Homo sapiens: one gene and its partners. The protein of the gene in region 3 interacts with the protein of the main gene of each other region in a pairwise test. Each region holds a gene or a part of one and is shown on either strand. Other genes may lie near its edges.

Region 1 (8,641 bases), on a different chromosome or scaffold from region 3:
GTCCCCAACCCTTGGTCGTTATACTATGGGCTACCTCACAGGGGCTGGATCAGTTCCTCCTCTTCCCTTCCCCATTCCTGATCCTGGTTTCCTGTATCTTCCTGGTCTATGATTTTTTTAATTAACACAGTTTGCTGTGATTGAGTCTGCTGAGTTTTTAACCAACCTGATTTCCACAGCTGAACTATTTTTGTCTTTCTTACAGCTAGCTGCAGGGGAATGTGGACTTTCCAAATCTAGTTCCCTAAAAATAAACTCTCCTGCCCAATACTTCACACCTTTTTTTACTCCCTTCTCTGCCTACCAAAGCCAGAGGATTCAGATGAGAACACTGAGACCCGAGAAAATGGCAGAACCACTAGACGGAAGCTGGGTCTTTGAATGAGCACTCCCAGTATTGAACTGTGACATGAATAAGAAATAAGATTTTAGTATATTAAGCCACAGAGATTCCAGGATGTTTATAGCAGTTAGCCTACCCTAATGCATACATTTGAACCAGAAATTGTGTACTTTAATAGCAAAATTCCAAAATATGAGGTTCTAGCTTACCAGTTACATGGCAAGAAACAAAACTGCTAGAAAGATGGTAAGATAGTAAAGTCTTACCTGTGATAACTTGGAAAGCATCTCATGGTTAGCCTATTTATAAGTGGTGGAAAGAATCAGCGTTGGGGTATGGAAACTTCTCTTGGCTGCCTTTGGCAAGGTATGGCAGGAGAAATAATTGGCTATGTGGGAGCAAAAATGAAAAAGAATATAGAGTATTCAGAAATGTGAAAGATTGAAGGGTGAGAAAACCTGACCACTTCTAAATCCCAGACAGACTAAAAAGAGCTTTGAGTGGGAGCCAATAAAATTTCTCAGTTGAACAGATCGACTCAGCCTTATGGCAAAGGCTAGATTAAGGATGTGGCCCTTTGTGAGTTCAAATGAACTTAGTGTATTCACCACTAAATTTGAGGGGTATGGTGCTGAGAAACAGGAAATACTTCTTGAGAATTATGACTGGGAAAGGATTTGGGGTATGATTATTGGCACATGGAAGCAGAAATCTAACTTTGTGAGGGAATTTACAAAGAAACACAAGCCAGGACTAAAAACCCCTTTCATTGTTCAGGTGAGGAAACAGCTTTGAGGAGGAAAGAAAATATATCAGAGAGATACCTGCACCCTCATGTTTATTGCAGCAGTATTCACAATCGCCAAGATATGGTATTAAAATGTGTCCAGCAACAGATGAGTGGATAAAGAAAACATGGTGTACATACACAACGGAATAGTATTCAGCCGTAAAAAATGAAATCCTGGCATTCACAGCAACATAGATGGAAATGGAGGTCATTATGTGAAGTAAAATAAGCCATGAACAGAAAGTTAACACCACATGTTCTAATTCATGGAAGCTAACAAAAGATCTCATGGAAGTAAAAAACAGAATAGAGGATACTAGTGGCTGGAAAGGGAAGAGAGGAGGAAAAGACAGATTTGTTAAAGGACATAAAATTAGGAGGAACAAGTTATAGTGTTTTATGGCACTATAGGATGACTATAGATAACAATAACATATTTTCAAATAGCTGGAAGAGAAGATATTGAACACCCCCAACACAAAGGATAAATGTTTCAGATGATGGATATGCTAATTAGCCTGATCTGATCACTACATCTTGTTTGTATGGAAACATCAAAATGTACATGTGTATAATTATGTATTGATTAAAAATAAAATTTTTTTAAAATTAAGAAAACTTTTGGGATCTTAGCTTATGCCGGCAGGAAGCAGACTGCAAAAGCTGTGCTATTCCCAAGGAAGGCATACTCCCTAATATCCACTTCAAATGTGGACAAGCAAGATTATATGCAAATGAATCTCCCAGAGGGATGCAAAGGGCCGCAGAAAACAGTGGATGTGGAAGTTTCTCTCAGAAAGCAGATCAGAATCAAATCAAGGTTAAGTGACTGTGGAAGGCAGAATTTCTAGAATAGCCCTCCAAAGATGTCCCACCCTAATCCCTGGAGCCTTTGAATAGGAGCTCCAGGGGTATGGAGCTTTGTTGTGTTACATTAGATGGTACAGTTGACCTTAAGATAGGGAGGTTATCCAGGTGGGCCCATGAGCCCTTAAAAGCAGACAGCTCGCCGGGCGCGGTGGCTCACGCCTGTAATCCCAGCATTTGGGAGGCTGAGGCGGGCGGATCATGAGGTCAGGAGATCGAGACCATCCTGGCTAACACAGTGAAACCCTGCCTCTACCAAAAATACAAAAAATTAGCTGGGTGTGGTGGCGGGCGCCTGTAGTCCCAGATACTCGGGAGGCTGAGGCAAGGAATGGCATGAACCCAGGAGGCAGAGCTTGCAGTGAGCTGAGATCACGCCACTGCACTCCAGCCTGGGCAACAGAGTGAGACTCTGTCTCAAAAAAAAAAAAAAAAAAAAAAAAAGTAGAGAGCTCTGCTTGAGCCCAGGAGGTAGATGCTGCAGTGAGTCACGATGGCGCCACTGCGCTCCAGCCAACAGAGCAAGACCGTGTCTCTTAAAAGAGCAGAGAACTTTCTCTGGCTAACTGTAGAAGTGAAAGAGAGACTAGAAGTATGAGAAGGACTCAGTGTGTCATTGCTGCTTTGAAAATGGAAGGGCTCTAGGAGAAGAGAATGGTCCCTGGCTGACACCCTGCAAGGAAACAGGGACCTCATTCCCACAACCTCAAAGAAATGAATTCTGCCAACAACCCAAATGTGCTTCGAAGTGGATTCTTCCCCAGAGCCTCTGGGTAAGAGCCCAGCCCAGCCAGCACCTTAATGTCAGTTTCGTGAGACCCAGGGCAGAGGACCCAACTGAGCCCACTCAGACCTCTGACATATAGAAGCTGTTAAATGATAAATGAGTACTGTTTAAGCCGCTAAGTCTATGGTAATTTGTTGGACAGCAATAGAAAGCTGGCACAGCGACCTTTCTAAGGCCTCTTCATTGGTATTCCAGAAATTCTATGGCTGGTGATCACTGTGACTCTCATTCTCCTCCTTGACACAAAGCCTTGCCTTCCCTGATTCATTCTTCCCCTTCCTGTCTTCCTTCGTTCTTTTTGCAATAAGTGAACAAATGCTAGAAAGCTAGCTCTCTTTCGGGCATGGTGTTAGGCTTTAAGAATAATCATGAAGAGGCCAGGACTCTGCCTGTCTGCCTCCCTGGTGCTGTGATGATAGAGTCATGCATGTTTCTGAGAAACTGGGGCTTGTGCTCACCCAGATCATGAGGTCGGTATTGGAGATGTGTAAGGGCTGTTACCCTGGTCTTTTAGAAGTTCCCTGCATTTGTTTAGAGCAGATTCTCTTTTTGTTATTGATATTTTTCACACAAATATCTAACTTTATGACCAGTACCACTTATATAAAAAAGAATTCGTTATCCATATACTTTTCCTATAAAAGACATTCATTTTGGAAAAATCTCATAAACCTTTGCCCAAGACATTGCTTACAAGCCAGAACTCCATAATTACCATGAAGCAAAAACCACTGAAAATCCGGCTGGAAAAACATAGAATACACTCTGCTGGTACACAGCACAGATAAACCTCATGTTCATCGAACAACAAAGGTGGAGTCTGACTTGAATTCTGGCCTACCAGAATATGAAAGGAGTTATTAAGAGAAAGTTATTTCATAAAAGACCCCTGTGGTGATTACTATTGTAAAGTTAAAAATCCTTGGGGAAAGTGTAAAATGTTTAATTTTGTAAATTGCCCTCCTACTTGTGTTATGTAAATGTGAATGTTTATATGTGCCTGGTTTCTTTGAAAAAGGAATCACCTGTAGTGGTGTAGAGATTTCAAATGTGTAAAAGGAGACTCAAAGGAAGGCAGAAGGTTCTAGACTCAGTATTTAAGTGGACATTTACTTTCATGAGCTTCAGCATCATACCCTGCAGATCACAAGGCCGAACAGCTGGGTGGAAAAATCACTGATTGCGGGAGGAAAAGAGGCACAACCTATGCTCAGTCTCCTTTAGGGACAGAGATGTTTCTAGGAGTACATAAACGATGGACTCCACAGGCAGTAACAGTGAATGGTGTGAGAACTGAGCTGCTGGGGGAGGAGGAACAGCAGGGAATATGGGAATTGGGAGAACCTTTAGCAGTTCACACTGTGCTATCTGCCTTCCTCATTTGTGTGTTTTCTGAGTCAGCATTAGCTAAATTTTCCAGAAGGCCATCCACAAAGTACAGCCTGGGCGTTCAAGGGACGTCATTCATTTCCCCCAGTGACCTTGACAAGTCAGAAGCTTGAAAGCAGGGAAATCCGGATGTCTCGGTTATGAAGTGGAGCAGTGAGTGTGAGCCTCAACATAGTTCCAGAACTCTCCATCCGGACTAGTTATTGAGCATCTGCCTCTCATATCACCAGTGGCCATCTGAGGTGTTTCCCTGGCTCTGAAGGGGTAGGCACGATGGCCAGGTGCTTCAGCCTGGTGTTGCTTCTCACTTCCATCTGGACCACGAGGCTCCTGGTCCAAGGCTCTTTGCGTGCAGAAGGTAGGTTTCTCACCAGATTTCCAAACTGAAGCAAGGCTTCAGTCCTAAGCCTCCTAAGCTGTTGACTATGGATTTCTGGGAATGAGGGTGACCCTCAGTGTCAACAGCAGGTCTAATTGGTGGTACTGCTCTGCCAAAAATGTACCACCATATTGTCAACTTCACCAAAATGATTGACATTTACGTTTGTATCATCTGGACTTTTACTTTTGGTTATGGAATATTTTTAATGAGGACATTTTGAAATAAAACACTGAAGAGAAACCATTTGATTTTTACTCTTTTTTGTATGGGTGGTATTTAAATTTTTTGTAGCAATGGGATCTCGCTTTGTTGCCCAGCCTGGTCTTGAACTCCTGGCTTCAAGTGATCGTCCTGCCTCAGCCTACCAAAGTACTGGGATTGCAGGCATGAGCCACTGCATCCAGAAGTAATAATTTTTTTTTAAGTATTTCATTGAAGACGCAAACCATGATTGTAAAAAATTTAAAGCAATCACTAAGCTTGGGAATAATGGGTAACTTTCACTAAAATTGGCCTGTTTTTATGTTTTTTGGGAGTGTTAGCATAATTATTTTAATTTTGATTTTATCATACCATGAATGAGGTGCAATGTTTTAAAAAAATATTCAGTAAATAGCAAATTAGCTGAAAAAAATCTGTAAAAATATAAGTTTGAAAATTAAGCCATCGGCTGTCTACTAAAGGAATGACTTAAAGTGATCGCTGGGCTTTTGAGATGCCTAAATGGAAACCTCATTTTGCACTGTAGGCAAAAAAATTGTAACCACAAATCACTCATTGCAGCTCTGGGCAAATGAAAATCTGAGCACTTTAATAGGAAAATGTGTGTTCCTATGCTGGAAGATGACCTGAGATATAAAATATGCTAGAAACAGACATTCAGAGTTGATTTATATGTTGTTGCATTACATTTTATAAGAAAGGTCAGAGTTATATGATTAGTTTTTTAAAATACTGTTACTTTCAAATAAGTTTGGTCCTCTTTGAAATCCTCTGGGGAGACTATTTTTCCCCACAATGCTGCCATTATTCAAACTATTGGACACTGTTTTTTGAAAATGACTCCATCACACTCTGGACTATCCTCAGCAAGGGAAAAAGATTTTCTAGGGAAATTACATTTTTGGAAACAACCAAAAGTCAGCATAACCATGACTGCAGAATAAAGTAGTTGATGAAGGTAAGTGAATAGGGGTGGGAACTATATTTGAGGGCCAAGTATATAGTGATCCAGAGCTAGGTGTGTATATACAATTTCATTTAATCCTCTCAAAAAGACAGTTTATAGGTGAAGTGACTTGCCCAATGTCATGCAGGCAGTACATAATAAATATTGGGTTTGAATTCAGCCCTATCTGATTCCTAAGCATATGCTATTATCTGATTCCACATCCTTATATCTAACTCCTAAGCATACACTATTTCTACTATGTTTGCTGTTTCCTGAGAAATCTTAAGGAAGGAGTTACTGGAGTACTCCCTTAAATTCCAGCTCCCTCTTTTGATCCCTAAATGAAATAGGAAAGCATAAAATGACTAATGTTGTTGACTTCCTACTGGGCCCCGCCTCTGCTAGGTACAAGTTATCTAATTTAATTCTGATAAAAATCATGTGAAGAAGATATATCCATCCCCATTTTCAGATGAGAATGCTGACTTGCCTGATGTCGCAACAGCCAGTTAACAATAGAAAAAATATTCAAAGCTAAGTCTATCCACCTAGAATAAGTCTATCACTCCTCTAAATAATAGTATTTAGAGTACAAATGACATATGATGAGAGGGTAGTAAGACCAATTGATAATGTGACAAATAAACCTCTGCAATCCATTCCCAAAGAAGTAGCTATAAGAGACCTGAGCAATAGCAAGCTCATGAGCTAAAAGAGCCAAATTTCAGAGCAAACGGTGTGTTCAGGGAGTTCAGCCTAGGGGTGTGTGTGTGTCTGTGTGTGTTCATTTCCTTATAGCACTGTGAAAGGTAAAACAGTGTCATTGTTAAGAACTGGGGGCCGGGTTGGGCACGGTGGTTCATGACTGTAATCTCAGCACTTTAGGAGGCCGAGGTGGGTGGATCACCTGAGGTCAGGAGTTTGAGACCAGCCTGGCCAACATGGTGAAACCCCATCTCTACAAAAAATACAAAAATTAGCTGGGCATGGTGTCTCGCGTCTGTAGTCCCAGCTAGTCAGGAGGCTGAAGCACAAGAGTTGCTTGGACCCGGGAGGCAGAGGTTGCAGTGAGCATGGATCACGCCACTGCACTGCAGCCTGGGTGACAGAACGAGACTCTGTCTCAAAAAAGAAAAAAAAAAGGGCCAGGCACAGTGGCTCACGCCTGTAATCCCAGCACTTTGGGAAGCCAAGGTGGGTGGATCACCTGAGGTCGGCAGTTCAAGACCAACCTGACCAACATGGAGAAACCCTGTCTCTACTAAAAGTACAAAATTAGCCAGGTTTGGTGGCACATGCCTGTAATCCCAGCTACTTGGGAGAATGAGGCAGGAGAATCGCTTGAACCCAGGAGGTGGAGGTTACAGTGAGCCGAGATCACGCTATTGCACTCCAGCCTGGGCAACAAGAGTGAAACTCCGTCTCAAAAAAAAAAAAAGAACTGGGGTTCTTGCTTGGCCATACTGGTGCACACCTGTAGTTCCAGCTACTCAGGGAGGCTGAGGTGGGAGGATTGCTTGAGCCCAGGAATTTACGACCAGCCTGGGCAACATAGCAAGATCCATCTCTTGGGAAAGAAGAAGGAAAAAAGAGGAACTGGGGTTTTAGAATCAGGCATAATTGAGTGTGTGCTCCTAATCTGCCACCACAGCAAGGTTCATATGGAGGACTTAGAAATGCTCCTTCCATGTTTTCAAAAAGAAACTTCCATTAGATATCAACCTAGGAAGTGGTCAAAGCATTTGACTGAGCATCCAATACACAGAGCTGCGTACAAGCAATTACTTGAGAGATTTAAATGCCCTTTTATGGATGTTTGTGGATGAAGCCCAGTAGGAATAATGTATTTGAATACAATACAACTTGGCAATTTTATACAGGTCTGTACATCCCAGAACCCAGAGAAAAGGGTTCAAAAGAATTCCCAAATCCATTAGATTTTGAGTAGAAATATTATTCATATCTTACCTATTCAACAGCCTCAGCTTCTGTGGGGTAATCAATCATTAGCAGACCAAAACCAAAATGCTTTAACGATAATGATAATGTTATGTGGATTTATTAAGCACCTACCATGTGGCAGGCACTATGCTAAACATTTGTATTAGAATTTACTCACTTAACTTTCACTACCCTATTCAGTAGACACTGTTACTCCCTTGAATTTATAAACAAGGAGGCTCAAAGAGCTGAAGATTAAAGAGATGAAGTATCTAGGCTAAGGTCACAGAGCTAGCAAATGACATATGCTAGATCTAAGCCCAAGTCTGACTCTAAAATTCTGCTTTCTTCATTTAGTTTTTCTGCCATTCAAAGTTTACTGCCAGCTCCTCCAGGAACTTCTGAGTAAGCCTGTCCCCCAGTGGCCAAAAGACCTGGAACTGAGAGCACTCACATTCTTTTATAACAAGTGTGACATTTTCAGCCCATCTCACAAATAGTAGTGTCCCCAAACCACATTGGTTTGGGGTATTGCTAACTATTCTATGAACTAGAGCCCTGAATTCTATCTTTCTCAAAGTCTCAGATGCTTCATTTTACAGACTCCAGAAAGGTTTGCAGTAACTGCATCCCTTAGACTGCACCCCAACAACAGGTAGCCAAAGCCCCTATATGGTGAGCAAGGCATCTTAATGCAGTGGGATGGGATAGATTTTGATTGGGCGACATTTACAGCTTGGACAAGAACAAGCATCCATCTAGCCCAGCAGATGGTCCTTGTGGAAAATGCCTGGTCTGTGTCCTGTTATTCTAAACCCCAGTCCCAGCCAGATAGACCTCCCTGCGCATCAGGACGATATACTCTGCTGGGAAGGAGAGTCTAAGGGCTGGAAACAAGGACAGCAGCAAACTGAGGACCTATGTGATTCCTTTGCAGAGCTTTCCATCCAGGTGTCATGCAGAATTATGGG
Region 2 (8,820 bases), on a different chromosome or scaffold from region 3:
TGTCTCCGGCATCTCTCTTTTTTCCCTCTTCTCCATCTCTAGAGAAGCCACCAGAAAATGGCATCTTGCTTTTGACTTTCTTTGTGCTGATTCTTTTAGAGAACTTAGTGATCCACTTTGCAATGTCTCGTCTCCTAACATTTCAGCTTGTTTCTCAGAGGGCCTGTACTTTGCTTTCTACCAGCTCTTTCATCATTTTCATTTTCTTTAATGAAAAATAAGCAAAACTGTATGATTTCTAGGTTGTCTTCTTCTCCTAAAGGATATTCTTCTTCCGGCCTCTCTTAATCTCTCTTCTCAGCAACTCCCTTGATCTCTTTTATCATCAATTTATTGTCAATAAAAGTGGCTTTAGGAAGCCTCCTGTTACCTGGCAGGGTTCCAGCTTTCTGACACTTTCCTATGGGACCCACTTGTTATGTCATCCCTGTGTCCTTCTGGCACTCCCTCTTAGCTGGGGAGGGTCAGTCCCCAGGGTGAGAGTCGGTTGGGATGGCCCATTATCAGGCCTTTAGGAGTTTATAGTCTTGTACTTCCCCTTCGAAGACTGAGCTTTAGAGACATTTGGATCTAAAGGCAGCCATTTGATGCTGACTCTTTGGGTTTGCAAAGTAGTCATTTGAGGTTTTTAAAATGTAATTTCCTCTGTGCTCTTTGCAATCGTTCACTTTTCAGTAATTCAATAATATTTACAGAGGACCTACTTTGTGCCATACCTGGTCGCTGTTATCCTGGAGCTTATAGTCTAATGGCAAAGAAAGATGAGTTAATCAAGTAATCACACCAAAACACTTTCAATTCAGCCATGAAACTGTACAATTTCAGCCATGAAACAATGTAAAGGAGAGGCACATGGGGCTATGAAATCATACAATGCAAAGGACTGGTGTACTCTCAGGTAAGTGGTTCTCAAAGTGTGGTCCCTGGACCGGCATCTCAACATCTCCTGTGAACTTGTTAGAAACACAGATTCTCCATCCCTTAACTCCAGGGTTTGGGGGGAAGGTGTCCAGCATTTGTGTTTTAACCTGTCCCCAAGAGACTGTGATGCATGCTCAAGTCTGAGAACCTCTGCTCCAGGTGATCAAAGAAGGCTTCTCTGAAGACATTAAATTTTGGTTGATGAAGGAAACTAGGGAATAGGGTGGGGTAGAAGTATTTCAGACAGAAAGAATGGCATGTGTAAAAGCCCTGTGGTCTCACTCCTGTAAATCCCAGCACTTTGGGAGGCCGAGGCGGGTGGATCGTGAGATCAAGAGATTGACACCATCCTGGCCAACATAGTGAAACCCCGTCTCTATTAAAAATACAAAAAAAATTAGCTGGGCATGGTGGTGCGCTCCTGTAGTCCCAGCTACTCAGGAGGCTAAGGCTGGAGAATCGCTTGAACCCGGAAGACAGAGGTTGCAGTAAGCCGAGATCGTGCCACTGCTCTCTAGGCTGGTGACAGAGTGAGACTCTGTCTCAAAAAAAAAAAAAAAAAGCCCTGTGGTGAGAGCAGGAGAGCAGGGAGCTTTTGAAAACATGAGGGAGTACCCCAAGCAAGGAGAAGAGTGATACAAGGTGAGTCTGACAGGTCTGGACAGGGACCATGATGTGCAGGTCATGAAGGCCTCATCAGGGATTGGGCAACGGGAAGCTTTTGATGTGCAGTAAACACGGGAGTGACAATATATTATTTGCTTTTATTGAAAGGATAATTCTAGCTACAGTATGGAGAAAGGATGGAAGAAGAGCAAGAGTCGAGCACTGGGAGGGCCTCACTGGGGTCTTGGGGAGGATGATGGTAACTTGGACTAGGGTGGCTTCTGAGGAATGGAAAGAAGGGTGCATAATCACAAGATTCCCAGGTAAAATCCACAGGTCTTGGTTATCAATTGGAGGTGTCAGGAAGGACTGTGGTGTTTTGAGTCTACATCCAAGATGGAAGATAATGATGCCAGTTTTAGCAGTGGGACGAGATCATGAGAAGGTCCTGTTGAGTCCGAGGTACCTCTGAGCCACCCAGCTGTAGATATCAACTAGATAGTGGAAGGTGTGCTGGAGCTCAGAGAAGTCAGGGCTGGAGATACACATTTGTGCATCATCAACAGCTAGGTGGCAATTCAAACTGTGGGCTGGGAGGCATTGCCTAAGAAGAAAGAACGTAAGGAGAAGAAAGCCAGTGACGTTCATTGCAGAATGTCAGCGCTTATGTTTAATGGTCAAGTGGATTGTTTCCTCTAAAACAAGTTTAGAGGAAAGATCCAAGAGAAGGAGGAAAATTAGAACCTAGAAGACCATGGTTTCACAGAGGCCAAGGGAAGAGAGTTTCAAGCAGGAAGTGCCCAGCGGGGGTGAGCAGGGGGTAAGGCAAAAGAAGGTGGAAGAATGCCTGTTACACTAAGCGACTCAAAAGTCATTTGTGACTTTAGCAAAAGATATTCAATGGAGGGAAGAGAGCAGAAGATAAAATGAGGTGGACTGACATGAGAATAGCAGGTAAGAGAGTGCAGAAAGTGAGCATAGACAGCTCTTTAGAAATGGTTGTGAAGAGGAAGAGAGGGCCCTGTGGATGGAGATGTGGAGTCAGGCAGATAGCTCTGGTGTATTTGATTTTTCAGTGGGAGTGCTCCTAGCATGTTAAAGCCTAAAGACTTTGTTGAAAGGGGTGCTGAAAAAAGAGAAATGGTATCATCTAAGGTTACCAAGGGCCAGGATCCTTGACACAGGTAGGAGGATGCAGAGGCTTCGTGGGTCTGGTAGCTCCTGCTCTCCCCTGGACTTTTCTGAACCTCTGGGACCTGCCCACGCCCTGATCGCCTGCCCTGGAACGCCTGCTGTCCCTCCCTTTCTTGGCATCTCTCCTCCCCGCTGTCTCGCCTGCCCACAGTTCCTCTCCTGCAGCCTGTTCTGCTGTTTTCTCAGCTTTGTTCACCCACTGTTAAGTTATTAACTTGTCAGGGTCTAGACTCCCCGCTTCCTTTCCCTCTTTTGAACTCACTGCTGGCTCCCTTCCCATTTGCCGCCTCAGAAAGTCAGCATTTGGAAGGCTGAGGTTACTCTGCAGGTCAGTATTGGCAGGTACACAGAATTACAGTTAATATAATTAGAATGTGTAAGTTTTCTTAAAGACAATGATACAACTGAAAAAGAAATAATAAACACAGTCATCTCTCTGTTATCTTGTGGAGGTAAATGGTGAACTTAAAAAAATAGACTTTATTCAAAGTAGTGTCTCCAAGAAGGTTCATCTGTGAACATGTTAAGGATCGCTGGACTCTTATATGTTAATTCATGGATTCAATTATGATCAGGAATGATCCTCAGTTTTTAAAGCAAACTCAAAGAACTAGGTAAGTTGTTTTAATATCAGTGTCGCTGTTCTGAGACGTGCAAACTTTATCTTAGATTCTTTCTATTATTTTTATTTATTTATTTTTTTTGAGACGGAGTCTTGCTCTGTCACCCAGGCTGGAGTGCAGTGGCGCAATCTCGGCTCACTGCAACCTCCACCTCCCAGGTTCAAGCGATTCTCCTGCCTCAGCCTCCCAAGTAGCTGGCACTACCACACCCAGCTAATTTTTGTATTTTTAGTGGAGACGGGATTTCACCATGTTGGCCAGGATGGTCTCAATCTCTTGACCTCATGATCTGCCCACCTTGGCCTCCCAAAGTGCTGAGATTACAGGCATGAGCCACCGCACCTGGACTGTCTTAGATTCTTTAAAGAGATTTGTAACAGTTCCTTCAAAAAGAATTGCATGGTTTCTTATTATTACCTCGAACTTTTGAAGTTATGAATTAACTTAATATGGGGGCTACATGGACTAAGACACAGATGGTTTCCTATTTGTTGACTTACATCCTGCTGATAAGTTTTTGTCTAAGGGCAAGAGTAAGCGAGAAGTAATATTTTTGAGCATCTACTTATGTCATCGTATTTATTCCTTGCCATCCTTTGAGGTACCTATTATCCACAGTTTTATAGGTAGAGAAAGCAGGGCTCAGAACTGTGTAGTAATTTCCCAAAGTTCACAGCTTTGTAGGCTGGCAGATAGTGCTAAGCACTGGTCTGCATGCTGGGACAGGGAGAAGCAGCAGTTGTTGTAGTCATAGTAACAGTGATGATAGCAGTAGCTACCAGGCAGTGAGTCCTCCATGTGTGAGGACCCTTCCTATATGTCATATGGTTTAATCCCTGTGACAGCCCTGCAAAGGCCATGATCCTCATTTTACAGAACAGGAAGCAGCCTCTAAGAGATTAATTATTTGTCCAGTCACACAGCTTTTCAGCAAAGAGCTGATATTCAACCCAATTCCATCTGATCCTAACTTTCTGCTCTAAAGTCAACTTGTTCGTCAGGATTAGCGATAGTTCCCTGATCACAAGAACAAAGTCTGAGGCATGGTAGAAGTAATCTTTTTTTTCCTAATGTTGAATATACAGCTGCCTCCTGACATTCCTATTGAGCCAGAATACAGAATGTTTATTTAATTTTTACTCCTTGTGAGCCTTGGTGGGGAGGAAAGAAACATCAGATATTTCTGCAAGCTTATAAATTGTTGTAGGGTACTTTCTCTTCCAACTGCTCCTGTTAAGACCCACCCAAGGCCGGGCACGGTGGCTCACGCCTATAATCCCAGGACTTTGGGAGGCTGAGGTGGGTGGATCACGAGGTCAGGAGATCGAGACCATTCTGGCTAACACGGTGAAATCCCGTCTCTACTAAAAATACAAAAAATTAGCCGGGCATGGTAGCGGGCACCTGTAGTCCCAGCTACTCGGGAGCCTGAGGCAGGAGAATGGCGTGAACCGGGGAGGCGGAGCTTGCAGTGAGCCGAGATCGCACCACTGCACTCCAACCTGGGCGACAGAGGAAGACTCCGTCTCAAAAAAAAAAAAAAAAAAAAAGACCCACCCAAGAACCCAAACTTAGCTAAGAAAATATCTGAGCACATCCAGAATTAAATATCACAAGTTGTTGGACCAACACCTTCACCATATCTACAGATGAGTCCCTGACACTCACATGGAGCTGATTGACTCTGATTTGACTCGTAATTCTAACAGTTTCTGTTTTCAGCTTAGTCTACGGCAACAAAATAATAGTACAGGACCCACTGCAGATTGGTGTAGTAATACAAGAGATGTGACCAGAGATGAGAAGAAAGAGACCCAAAAAATGATCAGAAGCAGAAATGGGAGCCCAGAAGTGCAGCTGACCAGAAGCATTTCAGTGTCAGATCACACGCAGCCTCCTCTGTAATGAGATCACAGCACGTCTCATCAGTTACTGGTTTTCATTATGGTGACACTGAACACTCATGAAAAGTTAGCATTGAAATATGTTGGTATCTCCAATTTAGAAAGGTAGTGATGATGGGTACAGTGTTTTTACGGGGAAAAAAAGCCAAAAAATGCATTCATGTTTGTCTACTCTTAAAACCCAGCTGTCCAAGAACGATTCCCCAAGGCCCTGTCCATCATTTCTCTTTCTATCCTTGAAGCGCAGTGTCTGACACATAGGATGTGCTCATTGATGCCAGATGATGAAACTTGAATGGCTGGTTTCCTAGGGTTCTGGATAACTCTGTTTTACCGTGGATCCTGGATGTATTCCAGGATGACTTTAAGAAGGCGAGAAGGGGTAAGACCCCTGAGAGCTCAGTGTTTATTCTGTTTTTACACATGGTTAGATGAGATGATACCCACCCTCCTTCAAAAAAAAAAAAAAAAAGCCATTCAATACATGGTAGTTACTCTTATCATTACCATCATCTTTGTCAACACTGACCACGGTTGCTCACTGGGGAAGATGTGAAAAAGAAGTTGGGATCTTCCGCTCCTGGGACACATTTGAAACCCAATAGCTGGAAGCAGGCTGAAGCTATGTAACCAGCTCTCATCCACATGGGCAAGGGTCCCAGGAGTTCTCTGTGGGCTTACAAGCTACCCACCCCCTTGACAACTCCAGTTATTAAAGGTTGAGCCCTGAATAAATAAGTGCCGCTCTCCATAAGAGACAGCCGCCTTTCAGAGAGTTCCAAGCAGCTGGAAGATACTCACGCATGGAGGGTTCTAGGCAGACAGAGGCCGGGCCCCGTGGGCTGCTCCGAGCACCTGGTCGGCCTTCCCAGCACAGGGCTCATTGTTTTACAGGTCACAGCCATTTTGAAAAGGCAGACTCACTGACCTGTTTAATGAGTGCAGTTTCTGCACGAAAGCCCATATCCCTCTCCCAGGCAGCCCCAGAACTTTGCTGGGGAAGGGGGCCAAATCTCTTCTCAGTGCCTGAGGGATTTCTGGCCTTAACTGCTGGTGGAATTAGCAGGAGTTATCTATAAATCCCTGAGGCATCCATCAGCCGACTGAGCGAGGCTGCCTTTTTAAAGAAGTTCACTGACCTCTTGTTAACTTAACTCCTTGTTAGGAAATATCTAATCAGCTGTGAGCTAACACGTCAGGGCCCAGGGGTCTGCAGAAGCCGGGCTCACTGTGGGCTGGGTTTCCAGCTGTGTGCAGTCTGGTGTCTGAGCTGTGGTGTTTTCCTCTTTTCAGCTATCTTTCAGATCATTCAGAGCATAAGGATGGGCATGTGAGAAAGCCAGGGATTTGACACCACCTCCCTCCCACTGGAGGCGGGAGGACAACGGAAGCGGTCAGCCAGTTTCTGCGGGAAACAAGCAGGCCACACGGAATAGAAAAAAACGCTCCCCCACTTGTTCCCTGATCACTTCATCGTGGATGTCAGACCAAATTGCCTTCTCACAGGACATCTTGGTGCATCCGCGTTCTCAAGCGGAAAGGACATTTTGCTTTTCTGTTGGCAGGATTAGTAGCCACGCGGGTCGTCCGCAGCAGTGCTGTTTTTTTGGTTTTTCCCTTGGTTTCACTAATGCGTGCATGTGGCCCTCTGAACGATCACTGGTTTACTTTCTATGGATACAATCTCTCCTCCATTGAGAATTGATTTTACAAATAAATGTCTTCGTTCAACCTTATACCATGTGTGGGTTACAGTGAGAAAACTAAAGTGAAGAAAACAGCAGAATAGCTCAAGGAAAGTTGGGAGGTGGGGAGATTTGGTTATGCAGTTGGAGGAGGCGCAGGGAATCTGTGGGAGGGGAACCAGAGCTAGATTTACTCAGCAGGTCCCTGGCCAGACCCTCAAGATCTTTGCCTGAATGAAGCCCTGGGCAGTTCTAATGACCTTGCATTTTCTACACATTTGATTCTTCTTTTTTTTCAATATTTTTATCTTGTTTGTTCTTCTCTTTTTCAGTTCAGAAAAGGCATGTACAATGTATGTGAAGGTCCGATTAGTCATTATCTCCTCTGTGGTCTGCCTCGGAGCTTAGCACAGAGCAGATGTCCCAGGCCTCTTGGTGAGAACCATCCAACCCCAGAGCCCAGCCTCAGCCACTCCAGAGGTCTGGGTAAATCAGGAGCCTTGCAGCCCTCTGGGGGATCAGCTGGCAGAATTGGGGGGTGAGGCTCTCTCCCTGGCCAGCCTTCCCCACAGCTTCTCAAAGCATGGTGTTGCCAAAGGAAGTTACAGGGACAGCCACAGGATCACTGGTAGGATTAGAGGTGGTCACCCTGCAATATGAAGCACGCTTTTGTTTTTATTAATTTCCATCTTTGCATTAGCAATTTTTTCATTCATTAACTTCACGAGAGCTTTAAAAAGGAAAGTTACAGACATGACCAGGGTCTCTCTGGACCACTTTACAGGTTTTGGTGTTAGTGGCACTGTTTGAATTAGGGGCTTCTTGTTCATTGGAGTCTTTAACTTCAGACCCTTTAGTGATGTTCTTTCAGGCTTTCTTTTCTCCCACCCTTAGAGCTCCCCTCCAAAAGCATCCCTTCCCCCTTCTTCCTCCTTTCTTTCCCACTAAGAAGAGAGGGTAGTCAGACTGCTCCAAAACCAGCAGCCCTGGGAACAATCTACCACCCCGTGTTCCCTTGCCACTCCCACTCCCCAGCCCCCAGCCCCTTGCAAAGTGGCAGAAGACATTTCCAGCCACTCAAGGGTGGCATACAATAGATGCTCTCCAAGCTGGTCCCCTCATCCTGTTGGCTCTGACTGTCCTCTTCCAGGTCACCAAGTCAGACCAGTGTGTGGTAAGAGATCAGCCCTAAGGGATCCTGCTTGGGGCCCGGGAGCCCACGCTGCCTGCCAAGAGGAGGAAAAAGAAAGGCTCTTGCCTTCAGGTGACTGGGTCTGTGTTCCCATGTGTCTCTTTCCAACTCCCACATTGCCTAGACTTGATTAGAGTGCAGACCTTCTCTTTCTCCCTTAATGCCCATACAAGCATACCTCCCAAACCACCAATAGAGGCCATTACTGGCCTGAGCTTTGTGGTTCATCCCTTATTGGACAGAATTTTTTTCCCCTAATTTGGCCTTTCCCATAACAGCAATAGTCAAGAGGGTGATTATCCCCATTTCGAGGAAAGAGAAACTGAATCCTGGCCAGAGTCCGTTCCAGATAGACCCTGCTTGTCCCCAGGTGACAGGTGCGATGGGCTGAGCATGGTAGGCTGTTGGCTGCCATCCATAAAACTGTCCAAGATTGATTTCTCTCCCCAGGCTCTGCAATCATCCATAAACTGGTTTTCTATTAGTTTCCAGGTAGCCTCCCTGAAGTACTTGTATATGGCAATCTACCCTCCCTGGTGACTTTTTCCATCTGTTCTCTGCAAGCAGACATGAGAGCTGTCTTAGGGAAGTTAGGGCCATTGTTGATCTATATTGTACTGCAGAGATGACAGCAGTTTCCCTGTGAAACGTAGTAAGAAATACACAGAAGCCCAATGCACAACATACCCTCCAAA
Region 3 (8,820 bases):
AGTCCAGGAGCCAGGAATTCTGGATTTTGGCCCCAGGGGGGCTTTTCTGAACCTCCAGGCCCCATCCCAGAGGGCCCTGGGACATAAGGATGCCTCTTCTCCCTGTTCCCAGACTTCTGTGGGTTGAAGCTATGGAATCCCAGTTGCTGGAGACCATGGTGGGCTGACCGAAGAGTGAGGGCGTGGGGTGGGTTGTGGCTCTGAGGGGTTCCCAGGTGGCAGCACCATGTGTGTTTGTTCACAGGCCGGCTTCCTGGATGGCTGTGTTCAATGCCATGCCCACCATCTGCTTCGGATTTCAGGTGCCAGTGCCAGTTGCAAGGTCCCTGCTGTCCCCTTAGATCACCCCACCCTGGGATGGAACCCAGCAAGGAGGAGGAACCCAGGCAGAATGGAGGAAATCCTGGGGGGAAGGATGGAACAGGGGCCTCAGGACTTGCCCCTTGTTCCTGGGGTCTTTGTTCCCAAGGTACCTTCCTCTGGAAACTGGGGTTGAGGTCATTTCCCCACCATGACGGTGCCCTTCACCTGGACAGTGCCACGTCAGCAGTGTGCCCGTCTTCAACAGCATGCAGCAGCCTGAAGTGAAGACCTGGGGTGGAGTGGTGACAGCTGCCATGGTCATAGCCCTCGCTGTCTACATGGGGACAGGTGAGTGCTCCCCCCCCCCAAGACCTGGGACTAGAGTGCTCTCACTTCCACAGGAGTCCCTAGGTCCTGGGGCCTAGCTTTCCTGGGGACAGCCCTGCATTCCCAGCATGACTTGTATAGGCATTGGCTTGAACTTGGCCTGCCTGGAGCCTCCTCCTGCCAAGATGAGAGTGGTGTATTCATCCATTCATTCACCAGTTCTAACTTGGTGCCTAGGAAGTGCCAGGAACGGTTCTCAGCATGGGGGATGCCATGGAGAGAGACAGAACTGGTCTTGCCCTCATGGAGTTGACATTCTTGTTGGAGAGACAGTCATGCAGGAGTAACTGGGGAATCAGTAAGGAATTCCAGATGGTGGCAAGCATCCTGATGACAGTGAAATAGGGAAGGTGTGTTTTGTTTTATTCTATTTTATTTTGTTTTGAGAAAGGGTCTCAGAAACTGTCGCCCAGGCTGGAGTGCAGTGGCATGATGATAGCTCACTGCAACCTCAACCTGCTGAGGTCGAGTGATCCTCCTGCCTCAGCCTCCAGAGTAGCTGGGACTACAGCCATGTGCCATTGTGCCCAGCTAATTTTTTTTTTTTTTTTTTTCTAGCAGAGACAAGGTCTCACTATGTTGCCTAGCCTGGTCTTGAATTCCTGGGCTCAAGCAATTCTCCTGCCTCGGCCTCCCAAAGTGCTGGGGTTACAGGCATGAGCCACCAACCCAGCCTAAAATGGGGAAGGTATGAATGGGACTGGATGGGTGGCTTTGGGAGTGGTTCACAGAAGGTTCTTCTCAGAGAAGGCCCAAATGATGAGAAAGAGCCAGAAGAGGAGGAGCTGGGGAAGAAGGGTTCCAGGCAGAGGAACCACAAAACACCAAATCACTGAGGCAGGGCCAGGAAGAAAGTCTATGTGGCTGGAGTGGTGTGTGATGGGGGCAGGTGAAGGCAGTGAGGCCAGACAGGCACTGGCAGCCAGATCCTGTTGGGCCTCGAGGGCTGCTGGGAGTCATCGAGGAAGTGTTTTAAGCAGGGGGGTGGTTCGGGGAAAGGTGGCTCTGGCTGCCGTGTGGAGAGTGGTTGGGGTGAGGGAGCAAGTCTAGGAGACCCTGGAAGAAGGATCCCCTGAGTTCTTTCCACGGATAGACCGTAGGAGCTGCCTGGGCCAATACTGTTCTAGCCTCTGAATACACAGCCAGGAACAAGAGAGGCAAACAGCCAAATCCCTATTCTCCTGGGGCTCATGTCCTGGCTGGGGAGACAGAAAATAAGCCTGTAAAAATTAATTACTATTATTATTGTTATTATTTTTATTTGTATTATTGTTTACTTAAAGACCAGTGTGATAGTACAGTTAAAAAAAAATTAGAAAGCGATGAGGCCAGTCACAGTGGCTCACACCTATAATCTCAGCTATGGGAGGCCAAGGTGGGAGGTTCTCTGGAGCCCAGGAGTTCAAGACAGGCTGGGCAACATGGTGAAACTCCATCTCTACAAAAAATTTAAAAATTAGCCAGGTTATGGTAACATGCACCTGTGGACCCAGCTACTTGGGAGGCTGAGGTGGGAGGATCGCTTGAGCCTATGAGATCAAGGCTGTAGAGACCCATGATCATGCCATTACACTCCAAACTGGGCAACAGAGTGAGACCCTGTCTCTAAAAAAGAGAGAAATGAGTGTTAGGGGACAGGCCCAGTGGATCATGCCTGTAATCCCAACACTTTGAAAAGCTGAGATGGGAGAACCGCTTGAGGCCAGGAGTTCAAGACCAGCCTCGGCAACATAGTGAGACTCATCTCTACAAAAATTAAAGAATTAGCTGGGCGTCCGCCAGGCATGGTGGCTCACGCCTGTAATCCCAGGACTTTGAGAGGCCAAGGTGGGTGAATCACTTGAGGCCAGGAGTTCGAGACCAGCCTGGCCAACATGGCAAAACCCTGTCTCTATCAAAATTACAAAAATTAGCCGGGCGTGGTGGTGGTGCCTGTAATCCCAGCTACTCGGGAGGCTAAGGCATGAGAATCACTTGAACCTGGGAGGCCGAGGTTGCAGTGAGCCAAGATCGCGCCGCTGCACTCCAGCCTGGGGGAGAAAGTGAGACTCTGTCTTCAAAAAAAAAAAATTAGCCAGGCATGGTGGCATGTGCCTGTAGTCCCAGTGACTTGGGAGGCCAAGTCAGGAGGAACTTGAGTCTAAGAATTCAAGACTACAGTGGAACTATGATTGTACCACTTCACTCCAGCCTGAGTGACAGAGCAAGATCCTGTCTTTAAAAAAAAAAAAAAAAACGGCCAGGCACTGGGGCTCACGCCTGTGATCCCAGCACTTTGGGAGGCCCAGGCAGGCAGATCACATGAGGTCAGGAGTTCGAGACCAGCCCAACCAACATGGCGAAACCCCATCTTACTAAAAATAAAAAAATTAGGGCTGGGCGTGGTGGCTCACGCCTGTAATCCCAGCACTTCCCGAGGCAGGCGGATGACGAGGTCAGGAGTTCGAGACCAGCCTGGCCAACATAGTGAAACCTCATTTCTACTAAAAATACAAAAATTAGTCAGGCTTGGTGGCGGGCGCCTGTAATCCCAGCTACTCGGGAGTCTGTGGCAGGAGAATCACTTAAAACCAGAAGGCAGAGGTGGCAGTAAGCTGAAATCGCACCACTGCATTCCAGCCTGGGTGAAAGAGCAAAACTCCATCTCAAAAAAAAAAAAAAATTAGCCAGGTGTGGCGGCAGGTGACTGTAATCCCAGCTGCTTAGGAGGCTGAGGCATGAGAACCCAGGAGACCAAGATCATGCCATTGTACTCCAGCCTGGGCATGACAGAGCGCGACTCCATCTCAAAAAAAAAAAAAAAAAAAAAAAAAAAAATTAGCCGGGCATGGTGTAATCCCAGCTACTCAGGAGGCTGAGGCAGGAGAATCACTTGAACCTGGGAAGTGGAGGCTGCACTGAGCCGAGATCGTGCCACCGCGTGCCAGCCTGGGCAACAAGAGTGAAACTCCATCTCAAAAAAATAAAAAAGAAGAAGGCTGGGTGTAGTGGCTCACACTCTGGGAGGGTGAGGTAGGAGGATTACTTGAGCCCAGGAGTTCAAGACCAGACTGGGAAACGTAGCAAGACCCCATCTCTACAAGAAAATTAGCTGGGTGTGGTGGCATCTGCCTGTAGTCCTAGCTACCTGGGAGGCTCAGGTGGGAGAATCGCTTGAGCCGAGGAGGTCAAGGCTGCAGTGAGCCATGATCACACTACTGCGCTCTAGTCTGGGTAACAGGGCAAGACTCTGTCTCAAAAAAGAAAAGAAAAATAAGACAGCGTGATGTGAGAGAGTGCCTGGGGTGGGGGTCATTGTAGATGGACTGGCAGGAAGCATTCTCTGAGGAAGGACATCTAAACTGAGACCCAAATGATAAGGAGATGGCATCTGAAGGTCTGCCAGACAGAACAGTCAGTGCCAAGGCACTGAGGTGGGAATGTGCTGGGCAAGTTCAGGCTCAGAAAGCTGGGGGCTGGAGGGCTTCCAGCGATGGGGGATCTGAGAAGTCAGGGAGGGAGGCATCTGATCGGAGCCCCATCTCCCACTCTGAGCCTCCGTCTAAGTGTCCAGAGCTGCTGCTGCAGCCTCCAGGCTGATGTTGCTCCTAGGAGGAGTGGACAGTCCACCCCACTACCCTCCCAGGGTTGCCCTGACCCAGTTGTCCCTGCCCACAGGCATCTGTGGCTTCCTGACCTTTGGAGCTGCTGTGGATCCTGACGTGCTCCTGTCCTATCCCTCGGAGGACATGGCCGTGGCCGTTGCCCGAGCCTTCATCATCCTGAGCGTGCTCACCTCCTACCCTATCCTGCACTTCTGTGGGCGGTGAGCCCCCTTCCACTCCCCAGGGCCCCTCCTAGCCCCTGTGAGCGCTTCCAACATGGTCCTTTGGCCTTGTGTGGACCCCATCCTGTAGAAGGAGAAACTGAAGCCTGTAGAAAAGAGTCGGTGCCTAGGATGGGTCCCTACATATCCCAGGCCAGGTGTCAGAAGCGCCCTTTGTCCTGGGGTCACCAGAACATTCCGTGAGTCCTGTAAGAATCTCTATCCATGGCATGGCACGGTGGCTCACGTCTCTAAACCCAGCACTTTGGGAGGCTGAGGCAGAAGGATCGCTTGAGCCTGGGAGTTCAAGACCACCTGGGCAACCTAGTGAGACCCCATCTCTACACAAAATAAAATAAATAGCCAGGTGTGGTGGGATGCACCTGTGGTCCCAGCTACTCAGCCACTTGGGAGGCTGAGGCAGAAGGATGGCTGGAGCCCAGGAGTTCAAGGCTGCAGTGAGCCAAGATTGCACCACTGCACTCCAGCCTGGGTGAGAGAGCCAGACCCTGTCTCAAAAAAACAAAAAACAAAAGAATCTCTATCCAGATCCTTTCCTGAGCTTTCACATGGACACCCTCCCCTTTGGATGCCCCAGACAGTTCCTTTTAAGGAAAAAACAATATCAGTTTCCATGTGATGTAAAGCAAAGTGCTAAGCTCTCGACATTCACCGTCTCTAGTCCCTGTGGTAAACAGAGTGCTGGTGGCCCATTTTACAGAAGAGGAAACTGAGGGTCAGGAATGGGGCTTTCCCCGCAGTCTACCCAGTTAGGGGTCTGGCTCCTGTGAGCTAGAGGTGGGGAGCTGCTAGCAGCAGGGGCACCTCTAAGCCCTTCTCCATGTGGGCAGGGCGGTGGTGGAAGGCCTGTGGCTGCGCTACCAGGGGGTGCCAGTGGAGGAGGACGTGGGGCGGGAGCGGCGGCGGCGAGTGCTGCAGACGCTGGTCTGGTTCCTGCTCACCCTGCTGCTGGCGCTCTTCATCCCTGACATCGGCAAGGTGATCTCAGTCATTGGAGGCCTGGCCGCCTGCTTCATCTTCGTCTTCCCAGGTGCGGACCCCTGGCGCCCCATCTCACAGCCCCACAGCACAGACTCCCAGGGCCTGCCTAGCCTCAGCTCCCTACTTGCTCAAAACATGCAGGAGAGAGTAACCACCAGCACTAATTGATCACCTGTCTCGCCTCTGTACTAGCCCCTATCCAAGCATTATCTCCTGGAAAGAAGGTATAGTTGTGATCTCCAGTTTACTGATGGCACGTGGGGCTCAGAAAGGGTCACAGACTTGCCTAGAGCTTAACAAACTCAACTAGTAACCTTTTCCATCCCACGCTGTCTGGGTCCAGAGTCTATTCTTTTAACCATTCATTCAGGTGTCTGCTGCTCCTTGACTATGAGGGATCTATCTGGCTGGTTCAGCCCATTACAGCCCAGAGGGCAGTGGGGTCTGGGGTGGCACCCTGACACAGACATCAGGGAACCTGGGTTCCAGACACAGATCTACCGCCAGATCCCTGGAGAACTGTCCTGTCTGCCCAGCCATGAGTTCCACCCTTTTCCAGCTTGTCTCTATCCAGGAAGCCACCCTGAAAGCCCCAGCTGCTTTGCTTGGAGCAGGGGAGCCAGATCTGCTGGGAAGTGTACTAGGAAGACCCCTGGGGTTGGGCCACCACTGAGTCACCATTGAGTGCTGTCCCTTTAGCTGAGTCTAGCATGCTGCCCAAGGGGTCTTGTCAGATGCCAGCCTGTCATGGGAGAGCAGATGCCAGATGACCCCAGCAGGATGTGGTGTGGGGGCAGAGATGGAATTTCTAGAAGAGTAAACATGGGCCTTTCTCCATCCAGCACTGCTTCTTGGGAAAGGAGGTGGCTAGGAGGGAGGGAGCCCTCTCCCCTCACAAATGCTCAGGGCCACTTCTTCTCTTTCAGGGCTGTGCCTCATTCAAGCCAAACTCTCTGAGATGGAAGAGGTCAAACCAGCCAGGTAAAGCAGGACCCAGCCCTTGATCCTCTCAGGGAGGTGCTGGATTGGAATGTGGCTTTGTGGGGGCCTTAAAACAGATAGGAGTCAGAGGCTTGTGTACTTAGAAATCATGGGTTTTTGTTTTGTTTTTTTTTTTTTGAGCCGGAGTCTCGCTGTGTCGCCCAGCCTGGAGTGCAGTGGCACGATCTCAGCTCACTGCAAGCTCCGCCTCCTGGGTTCACACCATTCTCGTGCCTCAGCCTCCCGAGTAGCTAGGACTACAGATGCCTGCCACCACACCCAGCTAATTTTTGTATTTTTAGTAGAGACGAGGTTTCACCATGTTGGCCAGGCCGGTCTCGAACTCCTGACCTTAGGTGATCCTCCTTCCTCGGCCTCCCAAAGTGCTGGCATTACAGGCGTGAGCCACCACACCCAGCCAGGTTGTTGTTGTTTTTTTTTTAATACTTTTAAAAATTCGGTAGTGTGCTAGTTGTTAACAATTTAAACATTAATAAAGGGCTTAATACAAAAAGATGGAAGTCCCTCTTCCCCCACAACCCACTCGCCCCCACATCCTTTCTGAGATAGCTCCATGTTACCAGTATGGTCTGTGTCCTCAACCACTTCTGTACATGTGTGCGTGTCTGTGTACACATAGCTATGGAGATGTATACATAGATGCAGGGCTCTTGTTTTGTTTTATGAAAAGTGGTTTCAGCCAGGTGCATTGGCTCATGCCTGTAATCCCAGCACTTTGGGAGGCCAACATGGGCAGATCACCCGAGGTCAGGAGTTCGAGACCAGCCTGACCAACATGGTGAAACCCCATCTCTACTAAAAATACAAAATTAGCTGGGCATGGTGGCACCTGCCTGTAATCCCAGCTACTTGGGAGACTGAGGCAGGAGAATTGCTTGAACCCAGGAGGCGGAGGTTGCAGTGAGCCGAGATCACACCATTACACTCCAGCCTGGGCAACAAGAGGGAAACTCTGTCTCAAAAAAAAAAAAAAAAAAAAAAAAAAAAAGCCATACAAACATGTCTAAAAAAGAAAAAAAATTGGCCAGGCACAGTGACTCACGCCTGTAATCCCAGCACTTTGGGAGGCCAAGACAGGCAGATCACCTGAGGTCAGGAGTTCGAGACCAGCCTGGCCAACATGGCAAAACCCCGTCTTTACTAAAAATACAAAAATTACCTGGTTGTGGTGGCGCATGCCTGTAGTCCTAGCTCGGGAGGCTGAGGTAGGAGAATTGCTTGAACCCCGGAGGCGGAGGTTGCAGTAAGTGGAGATCGCACCACTGCACTCCAGCCTGGGTGATAGCAAAACTCTGTCTCAAAAAAAGAAAAAGAAGAAGAAGAAAAAAAATCACCCTTTATTTCTTTTTTTTTTGTCTTTTTTTTTTTTTTTTTTTTTGAGATGGAGTTTCACTCGTTGCCCAGGCTGGAGTGCAATGGCGCGATCTCTGCTCACTACAACAACCTCCACCTCCCGGGTTCAAGCGATTCTCCTGCCTCAGCCTCCTGAGTAGCTTGGATTACAGGCGCCCACCACCACACCCAGCTAATTTTTTGGGTTTGTTGTTGTTGTTTTGAGATGGAATCTCGCTCTGTCACCCAGGCTGGAGTGCAGTGGCATGATCTCGGCTCACTGCAACCTCCAGGGTATCTGGGATTACAGGTGCGCAGCACCATGCCTGGCTAATTTTTGTATTTTTGGTAGAGACGGGGTTTCACCATGTTGGCTAGGCTGATCTCGAACTCCTGACCTCAGGTGATCCGCCCACCTTGGCCTCCCAAAGTTCTGGGATTACAGGCGTGAGCCACCATACCCAGCCATTTTTTGTATTTTTTTAGTAGAGACGGGGTTTCACCACGCTGGCCAGGCTGGTCTCAAACTCCTGACCTCAGGTGATCCACCTGCCTTGGCCTCCCAAAGTGCTGGGATTATAGACATGAGCCACCACACCCAGCCTAATTTTTCTATTTTTAGTAGAGATGGGGTTTCGCCATCTTGCCCAGGCTGGTCTTGAACTCCTGACCTCAGGTGATCCATCTGCCTCGGCCTCCCAAAGTGCTGGAATTACAGACATGAGCCACTGCACCCAGCCTAATTTTTCTGTTTTTAGTAGAGATGGGGTTTTGCCATCTTGCCCAGGCTGGTCTCGAACTCCTGACCTCAGGTTGCCCGCCTTGGCCTCCCAAAGTGCTGGGATTACAGGTGTGAGCCACCACACCCGGCCGGAAATCACCCTTTATTTCAATTCCGTTTTATCCCTGTTGCTGTTAATTGGTACATACATTTGCAGATGTCTGCTTTTTGTTTCCTTTTTTTAATGAAATAGACCACATTCCATGTG
Region 4 (4,744 bases), on a different chromosome or scaffold from region 3:
GAGATGTCAGTGGGGCCAGCTGGTGACTGGCATATGCTGAATGTCGATGCGTCTTCCTCCTTTCAGGATGTCAGCTTGCACTGCTCAGAATCAGGAGTTACAGAGGAAAGTCTTGCATCTCGAGAAGCAAAACCTGTGAGTCTGGGTCCAGCTGGGGCAGAGGACAGGGGAAGCAGCCCCAGAGTCCCTTTGCAGGAAGAGCAGAGAGCCCATGTGATGGCAGAATGACATAGGGAATAAGAGTTTTACCTATGGGCCGCGTGCAGTGGCTCACGCCTGTAATCTCAGCACTTTGGGAGGCCGAGGCGGGTGGATCACCTGAGGTCAGGAGTTCAAAACCAGCCTGGCCAACATGGTGAAACCCCGTCTCTACTAAAAATACAAAAAAATTAGCCAGGCGTGGTGGCGGGCACCTGCAGTCCCAGCTACTCGAGAGGCTGAGGCAGGAGAATTGCTTGAACTCGGGAGGCGGAGGTTGCCGTGAGCCGAGATCGCACCACTGCACTCCAGCCTGGGTGACAGAGCAAGGCTCTGTCTCAAAAATAAATAAATAAGGCCTGGTGTGGTGGCTCACGCCTGTAATCCCAGCACTTTGGGAGGCTGAGGTGGGCGGATCACAAGGTCGGGAGATCAAGACCATCCTGGCTAACACGGTGAAACCCCGTCTCTACTAAAAATACAAAAAAAATTAGCTGGGTGTGGTGGTGGGCGCCTGTAGTCCCAGCTACTCGGGAGGCTGAGGCAGGAGAATGGTGTGAACCTGGGAGGCGGAGCTTGCAGTGAGCTGCCATCCCACCACTCACTCCAGCCTGGGCGATGGAGCAAGACTCTGTCTCAAAATAAATAAATAAATAAATAAACAAATAAATAAATAAATAAAATAAATAATAAAGAGCCAGAGGCCCTTGAAGAATGGATGGAATTTGGACTTTAGCGGGGCTGGGGGACCCCGGAAATGGACGAGAAGCAGAACCGAGGCCCTTTAGGGCTCAGCGGAGGCCTGCCTGTCTCTCTAAGGTCCCTCTTGGAGCAACTGAAGAAACTCCAGGCCATTGTGGTGCAGTCCACCAGCAAGTCAGCCCAGACAGGCACCTGTGTCGCAGTGAGTCCTGGTGCCCCCAGGCAAGCCGGGGACCTAGGCTTCTGTAGAGGGGCCCATAGGGAGGTGACAATGAGTCCAAGCTCTCCTTGTGCCCCAGCTCAAGTATGATCCAGTCTGGTCTTTGGGGCCTCAGTTTCCCTGCCTGTGGGATGGAGATGCTTGCAGGGGAGGGGAGGGAGGGGGTGACTCTGCCGCTGTCTCCACCAGGTCCTGTTGCTGTCCTTTGCCCTCATCATCCTCCCCTCCATCAGCCCTTTTGGCCCCAACAAAACCGAGAGCCCTGGGGACTTTGCGCCTGTACGAGGTAGGGGATCCCCACCTTTGAAACCCTTGTCTGGTCTCCCCAAGTCCCCGTCCTGGGCCTCTGGGGGAGGGGGAGAAGACCCCTGTGCCCTTGTTCCCTGAGGCTGGGGGCCAGGGAAGGGAGCATAGGACCCCACCTCCACCTTGTCCCCTGTGATGCCCCCCTTCCCCAATCAGTGTTCTCCAGAACTTTGCACAACGATGCTGCCTCCCGCGTGGCTGCTGATGCTGTGCCAGGCTCCGAGGCCCCAGGACCCCGACCCGAGGCTGACACAACCCGAGAAGAGTCTCCAGGAAGCCCCGGGGCAGACTGGGGCTTCCAGGACACCGCGAACCTGACCAATTCGACGGAGGAGCTGGACAACGCCACCCTGGTCCTGAGGAATGCAACAGAGGGGCTGGGCCAGGTCGCCCTGCTGGACTGGGTGGCGCCTGGGCCGAGCACTGGCTCAGGACGTGCAGGGCTGGAGGCGGCGGGAGACGAGCTGTGAGCCCCGCCAGGACTATGCTCCCAGGCCCCTCTGCCCAGGGGTGCCTTGGGGATGCTGCACTGGGCAGCTACCCACCTGGGGATGGGACGTGAGGCCAAGACCCCAGCAGAGATGCCAGAATGGGGGAGGCACAGCTCATAGCCACACACCCAGGGCCTGACTGAGGCCCACGCAGGAACCGACACTCAGACACAAGGCAAAGAGGGCCACAGGACCCGGGAAATACACACAGAGCCAGGAGCAGAAGCAAAGAGCAGACACACATACAGCCTGAAACAGACCTGGACAGACAGACACAGCCTGAAACAGACCCGGACAGACAGACACAGCCTGAAACAGACCCAGACAAACAGACAGACAGACACAGCCTGAAACAGACCCAGACAGACAGACAGACAGCCTGAAACAGACCCAGACACAGCCTGAAACAGATCCGGACAGACAGACAGAAACAGCCTGAAACAGACCCAGACAGACAGACAGACACAGCCTGAAACAGACCCGGACAGACAGACAGACACAGCCTGAAACAGACCCGGACAGACAGACAGACACAGCCTGAAACAGACCCGGACAGACAGACAGACACAGCCTGAAACAGACCTAGACAGACAGACACAGATTGAAACAGACCCAGACAAACAGACAGACACAGCCTGAAACAGACCCAGACACAGCCTGAAACAGACCCGGACAGACAGACAGACACAGCCTGAAACAGACCCAGACAGACAGACAGACACAGCCTGAAACAGACCCAGACAGACAGACCGACGCAGCCTGAAAGAGACCCAGACAGAGAGACAGGCAGACACAGCCTAAAACAGACCTGGACAGACAGGCAGACGTAGTCTGAAACAGACCTGAACAGACAGACAGACGCACACACACAACAGATGCGCAGCAACTCCCCGCCCAGGGACCCCTCCCGGCCTCCCTCGCACACTGGGAGGAGGAAGCCGCCGAGACTGCAGGGAGCCTGGCCCCGGAGCCCCGGGTGCGCCCTGGTCTTTGGAGCAGCCACGGCCCACAATCACCCCCCTTTTCTAAGACTGCCTGATCCGAAATAAAGTATTTTGACAGAACCTTGTTTTGGTGTGGAGGCGGAGTCTGGGGCTCCTCGACTCCCCAGAAGGAGGGGCTGGGCCAGCCTGGGATGGGTGAGTGAGGTGTGGGCTCCACACCCCCGCCAGATGCCCGCGCTGGAGCAGCGGAGGGAGAGGCGCCGGGCACGACTTCAGCACCTTGGAGAGCGGCGGCGGGCGGAGTGCGGGGAGGCAGGCGTGGCGCTTCCAAGGTGTCCCCTCCGGAGTTGCGGGGAAGGCAGCTGCCTTCCCGGGGATCTGGGCGGCCCACCCTGCTCATTTTGCGGGCGAGGACACCGAGGCGTCGGAAGTGGAGGGACTGCCTAAGGTCACAGCTGGGGAGAGTGGAACCCGGCTGCTCCTGCGCTCGTCTGTGGGGTCGCCCCCACTGCGGGCTGTGCGCGCCTGCCCGGGCGCCATCGCAAAATCGCGCCCAAAGCACAGGTGGGGACTCATAGCCTGGGGGTAAATGTTAAACAACAACAAAAAGCATGTGCATAAGTGTATAACTACAAACTGAGTGCTCAGAAAATGCCAGCTGCCTTATTGGCTTCATCATCAGAAAACTGGCCTGATCCCTCCAGAGGCGGGGTGGGGGGAGAGGTGAGCCCTTGTTCCTCGGCCCCCAGGCTTGAGGGGCAGGGATTGCAACGGAGCCCAAGCAGCTGGTCCAGGGAGGAGGGGACCACGAACTCCTGACCCAGGGGGGCGAGGACCTGCCACAAATAGGGAATTTAAACACTCACTGGGCACAGTGGCTCACGCCCGTTAAGTCCAGCACTTTGGGAGGCCAAGGTGGCCTGACTGCTTGAGCCCAGGAGTTTGAGACCAGCCTGAGTCACATAGTGAGACCCCCATCTCTACAAAAAATGCAAACAATTAGCTGGGTGTGGTGGCACACACCTATAATCCCAGCTACTCTGGAGGCTGAGGCAGGAGAATTGCTTGAACCTAGGAGGCAGAGGCTGCAGTGAGCTGAGATCACGCCACTGCATTCCAGCCTTGGTGACAGAGTGAGACTCTGGCTCAATAAAATAAAGTAAACACACTGAGATGCAAGAAAGAAATTGTTTTTATTGCATTGAGGACTTTTCCAGAAGCCTGGTGGACCCACGTCTCCCTCCAGCCCCAAAGGCAGTGCAAGCCTCTACTGATCCCCCACTTCAAGGTGGGTCTCCCCTCCTGCAGGGCCCATGGAGGAGGGGTAGGGTGGGCTGTAGGGGGCCCAGAAGGGAGGCCCTGGGGACAGAGGGAGTTCACTCCTGTTTAAGCTGGAGACCAGGGAGGGCCCAGCCTCACCTCTGGACAACACAGCAAGTCAGAGGCTGGGGTGTGGCAGGGGCTCACCTGTCACCTCTGGGGTGTGGCTTCTTCCCGGAACCGCACCAGAGGCCCCTGGAGCCCAGGGAGGGACCACGGAGGGCAGGTGTAACCCCTGGCCTGGAGCACAGCTCTCAGAGCCCTGAGGCTCCCGGGGACAGAAACAAGTAACAAAGTGAGACCACGAGAGAAAAAGAATCCACAGTTTCTACAAAAAGCCCCACCCTCCCCAAGCACCCTGGTCAGCTGGGGACCGCCTTGGCCTTCACCCTTTTGGGGGGTCTGTGGGGGGCAGGGCTGGTGGGCCGCTCCCGTTTGGGGCTGGCGGGCTCTGAGCCGTTGTGCTGGGCGCAGGGCTCCTGCTTGGGGCCGGCGGGGATAGAGCCGTTGATCCGGGTGGGAGATTCCTCCTTGGGCTCCAGCTTGGGGGTGGGCGGGCGGGG

The links.
Region 1: the proteins of SLC38A7 (region 3) and LYVE1 interact in binary tests that used the Homo sapiens proteins (3 or more experiments, as listed by UniProt).
Region 2: the proteins of SLC38A7 (region 3) and SERP2 interact in binary tests that used the Homo sapiens proteins (3 or more experiments, as listed by UniProt).
Region 4: the proteins of SLC38A7 (region 3) and CREB3L3 interact in binary tests that used the Homo sapiens proteins (3 or more experiments, as listed by UniProt).

Annotation. Positions count from the first base shown.
Region 1 is NC_000011.10:10,564,341-10,572,981, reverse strand, and holds the start of LYVE1 (lymphatic vessel endothelial hyaluronic acid receptor 1 precursor), read left to right. Parts: upstream 1-4,316; 5' UTR 4,317-4,449; coding exon 4,450-4,534; intron 4,535-8,607; coding exon 8,608-8,641. UniProt on the Homo sapiens protein: Ligand-specific transporter trafficking between intracellular organelles (TGN) and the plasma membrane. Plays a role in autocrine regulation of cell growth mediated by growth regulators containing cell surface retention sequence binding (CRS).
Region 2 is NC_000013.11:44,390,731-44,399,550, forward strand, and holds the end of SERP2 (stress-associated endoplasmic reticulum protein 2), read left to right. Parts: intron 1-695; exon of another isoform or gene 696-3,457; intron 3,458-6,541; coding exon 6,542-6,582; 3' UTR 6,583-6,984; downstream 6,985-8,820. UniProt on the Homo sapiens protein: Interacts with target proteins during their translocation into the lumen of the endoplasmic reticulum. Protects unfolded target proteins against degradation during ER stress. May facilitate glycosylation of target proteins after termination of ER stress.
Region 3 is NC_000016.10:58,667,771-58,676,590, reverse strand, and holds part of SLC38A7 (sodium-coupled neutral amino acid transporter 7), read left to right. Parts: intron 1-244; coding exon 245-302; intron 303-469; coding exon of another isoform or gene 470-515; exon of another isoform or gene 516-536; coding exon 537-651; intron 652-867; coding exon of another isoform or gene 868-977; exon of another isoform or gene 978-1,057; intron 1,058-1,248; coding exon of another isoform or gene 1,249-1,277; exon of another isoform or gene 1,278-1,341; intron 1,342-4,347; coding exon 4,348-4,495; intron 4,496-5,346; coding exon 5,347-5,546; exon of another isoform or gene 5,547-5,721; intron 5,722-6,423; coding exon 6,424-6,478; intron 6,479-8,820. UniProt on the Homo sapiens protein: Symporter that selectively cotransports sodium ions and amino acids, such as L-glutamine and L-asparagine from the lysosome into the cytoplasm and may participates in mTORC1 activation. The transport activity requires an acidic lysosomal lumen.
Region 4 is NC_000019.10:4,170,074-4,174,817, forward strand, and holds the end of CREB3L3 (cyclic AMP-responsive element-binding protein 3-like protein 3), read left to right. Parts: intron 1-66; coding exon 67-135; intron 136-1,017; coding exon 1,018-1,102; intron 1,103-1,309; coding exon 1,310-1,406; intron 1,407-1,582; coding exon 1,583-1,896; 3' UTR 1,897-2,981; downstream 2,982-4,744. Other genes in the region: SIRT6 (NAD-dependent protein deacylase sirtuin-6), read right to left, coding at 4,544-4,744. UniProt on the Homo sapiens protein: Transcription factor that may act during endoplasmic reticulum stress by activating unfolded protein response target genes. Activated in response to cAMP stimulation. In vitro, binds to the cAMP response element (CRE) and box-B element.